Linked DNA regions of Homo sapiens. The protein of the gene in region 2 interacts with the protein of the main gene of each other region in a biochemical or structural test. Each region holds a gene or a part of one and is shown on either strand. Other genes may lie near its edges.

What was found. The genes of interacting proteins can lie anywhere in the genome.
Region 1: the proteins of CACNA1C (region 2) and KCNE2 form a complex in vitro, tested with the Homo sapiens proteins (one study listed by BioGRID).

What each region holds. Positions count from the first base shown.
Region 1 is NC_000021.9:34,366,854-34,370,605, reverse strand, and holds part of KCNE2 (potassium voltage-gated channel subfamily E member 2), read right to left. Parts: intron 436-3,752; exon of another isoform or gene 140-435; 5' UTR 128-139; coding exon 1-127. UniProt on the Homo sapiens protein: Ancillary protein that functions as a regulatory subunit of the voltage-gated potassium (Kv) channel complex composed of pore-forming and potassium-conducting alpha subunits and of regulatory beta subunits.
Region 2 is NC_000012.12:2,055,856-2,059,607, reverse strand, and holds part of CACNA1C (voltage-dependent L-type calcium channel subunit alpha-1C), read right to left. Parts: intron 1-3,752. UniProt on the Homo sapiens protein: Pore-forming, alpha-1C subunit of the voltage-gated calcium channel that gives rise to L-type calcium currents. Mediates influx of calcium ions into the cytoplasm, and thereby triggers calcium release from the sarcoplasm.

The sequences.
Region 1 (3,752 bases), on a different chromosome or scaffold from region 2:
CATCAACTTTGGCTTGGAGGGCCTCTTGCTCAGCTGTTGTGTTCTGGCGCCAATTGTCCATATAAGTAATAAAAATCCTTCGGAAGACGTCTTCCAGCGTCTGTGTGAAATTGGATAAAGTAGACATGCTTCCCTCCTGCTGCAATTTAAATAATAAAATAGGCGAACAAGGTTAGGAAAACGGATCTTTTCTGGATTTGGCTATGTAAAGGTGGGAGGGAGATGCCAGGGTATAAGTAATAGTATTTCTTCTTAACCTGGCTGGTGATTTAATGCATATTTTGTTAGTCTTTAAACTGACTGCGTACATTTTATTCACTTTTTTTACAATCCATGATTGTTACACAGTAAAAATTTAAATGGCAGAGAAAATTATATATATACACTTTGATATTTATATATGCATGTAAATAAATGTATGTGTACATATGAAAATGGAGAAAATATTAGAAGTACATAGATCAGAATGTTAACAGTGGGTGGTGTGCTTAAAGATATGTATTTTCTTCTTTATGCTTTTCTCATATTCCAAATTTTCATCAGCAGTCTTGCATTACTTTTGTTTTTTAAAAAATTGGTAACCTTACAAGAGCTAGAATAATGCCACATTCATAACAAGCACTCAACAAACGTCAGTGGAATGGACCAATGACTCATTTATGTTCTCTGTTTTTAGAGAATTGTGGGGCATTATGAGATAACATCAAGAGAAAAGATTGCAGGGGGCATTGACAGACTCTCCAATTTGTTCCATCCCCTATGTCTAAGTGGCACATTGTCCCAAGTATCCTAAAGGGAGGGGTGTGTACATCTATATTTGAAAGAAGCATTTTAGGTAAGTGATGCCAAGAAACAATCTGAGAGATTATTCCTATGTTTCAAATCCATCTCTCCTTTTCATCACCACTGGCACCGCCCAGCCTCCAGCATCTCTCACCTGGATAATACAATGCCAACAATGTAATACAACACAACCCTCCCCAGAGCCATCTCTTTGGGGTTATATGTGCCCCTCTCTGCCTTGAATAGCCATCAATGTGCCCTTTTTTTTTTCTTAAGACGGAATCTTGCTCTGTCGTCCAGGCTGGAGTGGGGTGGCACGATCTCTGCTCACTGAAACCTCCGCCTCCCCAGTTCAAGCAATTCTCATGCCTCAGCCTCCCAAGTAGCTGGGATTACAGGCACATGTCACCACGCCTGGCTAACTTTTGTATTTTTGGTAGAGACGGGGTTTCAACACATTGGCCAGGCTGGTCTCGAACTCCTGACTTCAGGTGATCCACCCGCCTCAGCCTCCCAAAGTGCTGGGATTACATGTGTCAGCCACCGTGCACAGCCAATGTGCCTTTTTGAAGAGGGAAATTATAGTGCAATTTGTTTGCTTTTAAAATGATGCGATGGTTGTTCTTAAAATCAAGTCCTAATTCCTTAACAGTATTTACCCCATTGGCTGAGCAGGCTCCTGACCACCTCCTCAGTTACCCTTTGCTCACTACAGTTCGGTCACACCTGACATCTTCCCTCCCTGTCAGTAAGCTCTCTTTCCTCGGGACATTATCACATCCTATTCTCTCAACCTAGAATGCCTTTGCCTTTCTCTTCCACCTGCTACCTCCTCGTTCTTTAGGTTCCAGCTAGTTGTCACTTCTGAGACTTCCCTGGTTCTACTCTAAATCACTTCCCACCACCACCACCATTTTCCTCCAACAGCATCTCCTTTTTCTTCAAAAGCACACATCACATATGCAGTCACTAAATGTGTGTGTATATATTCATATTACTTTTGTTTAAAAAAAATTGGTAACCTCACACCAGCTAGAATAATGCCATATTTATAACAAGCACTCAACAAATGTCAGTTAAATGGAGCAATGACTCATTTATATTCTGTTTTCAGAGAATTATATACGTGTGCTTTTTTATACATCTCTGTTTTTAGAGAATTGTGGGGCTTTAGACATAACATCAAGGCAAACGATTGCAAGGCAAAAATTTTTTGTTTTTTTGAGACGGAGTCTCGCTCTGTCACCCAGGCTGGAGTGCAGTGGCGCGATCTTGGCTCACTGCAACCTCTGCCTCCCAGGTTCAAGTGATTCTCCTGTCTCAGCCTCCCAAGTAGCTGGGACTACAGGCAACCGCCACTACGCCTGGCTAATGTTTTGTATTTTTAGTAGAGACGGGGTTTCGCCATGTTAGCCAGGATGGTCTCGATCTCGTGACCTCGTGATCCACCTGCCTCGGCCTCCCAAAGTGCTGAGATTACAGGTGTGAGCCACCGCTCCCGGCCAAGATTTTTTAATACATACATACATACATATATATAACATACATATATATAACATACATATATATATATATATATATATATATATATATTGTGTGTGTGTGTGTGTGTGTGTGTGTGTGTGATTATTGGTTTAGGGGCTCATCTTTTCCACTCGGCTGTCATGTCTGCCAACTTTGTCTAGCTCGGTATAGCAGATGTCTAACACATAGAAGGCACTCAATGGACATTTGATGCATGAATTAAAGTGCCAGGTACTATGCTAGGCGATGAAACTGCAGAGGTGACAGGAACTCTGTGAGAGGCTCAGTTGAATGGGAGAGACCAAATCAATGACAATGCAACGTGCAAAGAGTTGCAACAGGTATGGACAAAAAGATAAGGGGGCTCAGAAAATGGAGCTGAACACGGTTCATAGATGGGGCAAGTGGGTTTCAACACAGCTAGAAGGAGCACAGGCAGGAGGTAAACCTGTGACTAGCCACTAGTAAAAGCCCCAGGATCCCAGCAGTGGGTTTGCCTGCTGCCGTTCTAAAGACATGCCCGTCTCTTTAGCATGTGACTTTTCTTTCCTTCATGAAAAGAGAATCAGATCTCCCCATCTGGGAAAGGAATTTCAATCAGCTGAATAATCAAACCTACTAAACAAATAAACTTGCAGGCATTCTCCCACAGAACATCCCTCCCCAGGATTTTCCTCATTGAGAATTACCATCACCAAGATAATATACTCTTCTCTGTCTGATGTTTTAAGTTCTATTATTTAGAGAGCTCTAAGATCTTTGTCTCCCTCTCCTGGCCACACAGGCTAGTGGGTTGGAAGGAAACTTAACAAATAGATAAGATTGCCCCAGGGTATATACCAAGCATATTTCCTAAGCAATGTAACAGAGATGTGCTTTTTCCCCTTTAAAATGATATAGTCTGCTGTGAAAGTTAGCTGAGCTGGCTTTAATCCACTCAAGACTTTGCCACTGGCTCTTTTACCCTTTTATTTTCATTTTATTTTTTATTAACTCTTTTTTAAAATAAAAAAGTAGTGATGAGGTCTCACTATGTTGTTAAACTCCTAGGCTCAAGTGATCCCCCTGCTTCAGCCTCCCAAGGTGCTGGGATTACAGGTTTGAGCCACCATGCCAGACTTTTTTTTTTTTTTTTTTTTGAGATGGGGTCTGGCTCTGTGAGTATAGTCTTTTTCTCTTGTAGGAAGCCCAGCCGGTTGTTACCAATCCATAGTACTTTCCCTGACCTCCCCAGGTCTAGGCAGAGACCCTTTTTCTGCCCCTTCTGCAAATGACCATGTTAGTTTTGTTTTTTTCCTTTTTTTTTTTTTTTTTTTTTTTTTTTGAGATGGAGTCTCTTTTGCCCAGGCTGGAGTGCAGTGGCGCGATCTCGGCTTACTGCAAGCTCTGCCTCCCGGGTTTACGCCATTCTCCTGCCTCAGCCTCCTGAGTAGCTGGGTCTACAG
Region 2 (3,752 bases):
TACACACAGGGTATAGCACAAGAAGCCCATTTTAAAGTGAAGGTGTTTTGCAGAGAACTGTTCTGTGGGGTTTTGGGGAGGGGAGGGGCTGAGAGGTTTGGGTTTCTTGCCAGTTAACCCCCGCTTTCCTCACCCTCTGCTTCAGCCAGATGAACCCTTCCTCTAGTTCCCTCGGCTTCCAGGGAAGGAAGGGTCTATTTTCAACCTCGGTCCGACTCCTGAGCTCCAGGCCCAAACTTCTCTCCTACAGTCCCTACAATCCCAACTTAAATTCAGTTCAGCTCCACAAGGAGTAACTGACTACCCTGATGACCTTGTTCCCCAAACCCTCCCAGACACCCTAGGGAGTTGGGGCTCCTCTGGCTTCCCCTCACCTTCTGCATCTCAGCTCTCGGAGGCTCCAGCCATCTCACAGCTCTGCTTTTCTGTGGGGTCATCCTGGGCTCCCCATCTCCCAGCTGGGGTCCTGCCCACACGGTACACACAGCTAGCACTGAAGCAAGGTTCTCCAGGGACCTGCGCGGGTCCTGCCTGAATTCGGCAGGGGAAAGGGGGCAGTAGAGAATGCATCCACTTCCCTTCCTGCCATGATAAACAGCTGCCTCCAGGGGTGCCTCAACTATAGAAACCAAGAGGGTCTGTCTACCTGCTCCAGGCCCGTGTCTACACAGGCTCAGGAAAGCCTGGTCTTGAGCAAATAAGCACCCCATCTAGGAATTAAAACACAGAGAAGAGCTCTTCTGGAGTGCCCAGGTTTCAGTTCAAATGATGGCATTCATTATTTCAGCCTTCCATTTTGCTTTTTCTGCAGTGGGTTCAGTTTAAGTCTACACACCCGGCTTCGAAATGACACCGAAAAACATTCCATTCCATTTTCCCCGAGGGATCCTGTCACTTTTACTTGTTTTACGTGGTATCTAACCTTGAGGTACATGTAAACAGGTGTTTACTAAATTATTTTAATAATGACAGCCATGGCTCAGAGTGTTATTTCATTATCAGAATGTTTAGCACTTCTGTCCCTAAATATTTGGCACCTGATATGTTGCAAAACAATTCCCCATGCCTTTTTTTTTAAAACCAATCTTCTGTTCTCCTCCACAGTGCCCAACATTAACCTAGGCAACTGTGAGGATGGAATCTAGAAACAGATGAAATCAGTGTGATTATTTTGTTAATTAGGCTTGTTGTTAAGTCTCCAGGTGTTTCGCAAACAGTCTATCAGCTTTCTGTAGTCCATATTGGAAAATAAAATTGTCTGCTAAATCTGAATGCTCAGCACTGATTTCAGGGTCCCAGCAAGGAAGAGGTGAGATGACGCCGGCTGACCTGTACCTCCTACAGAACAAACAGCTGCTGTATCAGGCGGGAGGAATTACTGTAAAAGGAAGAAAGTGCTGCCAGCCACTCACCCCTTCTTAGCACAGTGCCAAGGGCTTCTCAGACCTCATGGAACTTGCCACACAACTAAGAAAACCGAGTGAAGAAAGGAATAGAAAAGAAAATGCCAGGCGCTGGAAAACATCACTGGAAATTAGAACAAATCTCAGTTACTTCCTAACCTGGGTCTCCTGAGCTTTTCTGCCATTACCCAGCAGGAGATCCAGGCAGACTCATAAACGGAAATCAACTGTGAAGTGCACCCAGTTGTTTTTGTGTTCTTTTCCCTATTAAAGTTAGGAAAATGTCCTCCTGCCTTTGGCTGGCAAGCTCTGTGACTGCACAGGTCTGGGTTCCCAGATCCCATGCTTCAGGTCACCCCATGCTCCACTGGGCTTGGGCACCACCGGGCCCTCTGGTTACTAAACCATCAGTGAAAAATCAGGGAGAAAATTAACATCTGGCCATACCAAGTTCAGCGATTCACCCAAAAGGCTTCCTCCAGGCTCGGCGGGATGCTGTCTGTGCTGGAAGGGAACAGACGTCTGTGGGAAGAGCCTGCGACGGACTGGGTGGGCTCCAAAGGAGTTCTCATTACAACAGGGTGGAGAGGTCACTGTGGGACCTGGGTCCCTCAGTGATGCCGCGAGGGCCTCCAGTGTGTGCGGCGGCACGGAGACACACTGGTCTTTTGGGTTACCTGTGCCGGGGCAGGTGTGGGCCTGATGGAAGCAGCACAGCCCCAACAGGTCACAAGCTCTAAACTCCCCCTACACCTTTCATCACCAGGCGGACCCTGAAGCCCCTTTCCTGACTCCTAAGCCCTGTGGCGCCACCTACTGGAAGAGGCAGAAGCCACATCTACTGCAGGTCTGGCCAGGTCGCATTCATTCATTCACGCAGACATTTATTTGTTCAGCCTTGCATCGAGGCCCTGGACTGAGCAGCGGCCTGTACTAGGAAGCAGGGATCCCAAGATGAGCAGGGCCTCGAAATCTCCAGTCAGTATGCTCCTTGGATCCCTTTGATAGGTCTTACAGAAGAACCCAACTCAAGCAGTTTTATTTGAAGAACAAATTGAAGAGACCTAGGTCATTGCCAAGACTGAGAGATGGTCCCACGGGGCTAACGGCTCATCATTTCATTTACAAAGCACTGTGCCTGCAGCATCTACCTGTAAGAACAAGTCTCCCTTTACTATGAAGAAGAAATCTTTAAACAGTCTTAGGAGACTGCATTATCAATACTTCTCTCTCAACACCCCAGGTCCCTGAAGGGCATTAGCCTCTCGTGTGATCTATTTAAAATAGCTTTTCCTTATTCCATGTGTGTATGTATACACACACACACTTAAATACTGTTAGTGTGTATTCTATGGAAATAATGAAAAATTGACTCTTTTTAATATATTGTCATATTCTAAAACACTAAAAAGTGCCTGACCAATAGTAGGAATAATATGATGAACTCCAATAGCCCCTTTCCTCCAGTTTTCTCCATGCAGGATCAAGAAAAAGCAAAGCTATTGCCACAGCTTTCTTTAACCTGCTCAAGCTGATGTGCGAGCAATGTTGTTCTCTGACCATTTGTAAAGAAAGTTAACTGTGATCATTATTATTATTACCTTATTACAGTGATTCTTATTCTGCTGAATCGCTAAGTAGTTAAAAGAAAAGCACAGTGTGTCTTGCACTCCCCAAACACATGTTTCTCCCCTCTGCCTTGTCTCTAGCAGATAAGGGACATTCTGGTGTTTTATTTGTTCAATGGTTGACTATTAAGACACTCATTTGCTAGCTGGAGCCTGCAATAGAAAATCGGCCCAGAAAAGTGGGAGGCTGGCACAGGCCCAGAGCAGACAGGGCACCAGAGGCGAGGCAAGGCTTGAGTGTGCCACCCCAGCCTGAAACCCAGGGTCAGAAGCTGGTCCTTCAATGAACTTCCAGGCTGTTCCCAGGCACTGACCTCCAGTCTCCAGTTCGACCCTCAACACACACACACACACACACACACACACACACACACACACACTCACACACACTCACACATGCACACACTCCACGGAAAAGGTGAGGGAGCAAGGACTGGTGCATTCCACATCTCAGAGCATGTCGGGAAGAGAGGAATGCACAGCCCCCGCCACTGACAACTTTTTTGGTTCTCGACTCTTTGTTTCGTCACCATTACTGATCTTCTGAGGCAGTCCTAGACTCCTCTTCTGTCTCCTGAAACTCTAACCCCTATGATGGCTCACCCGCCCCCTTTAGTGATTAGCCACAGCAACCTCTTCCTTGTCAATATTCATTCTGTTCTAGGTCTGCCCTTCCCACCTCCACCACCCTCCTCCCCTCTCCTACCCCAACAACCTCGGC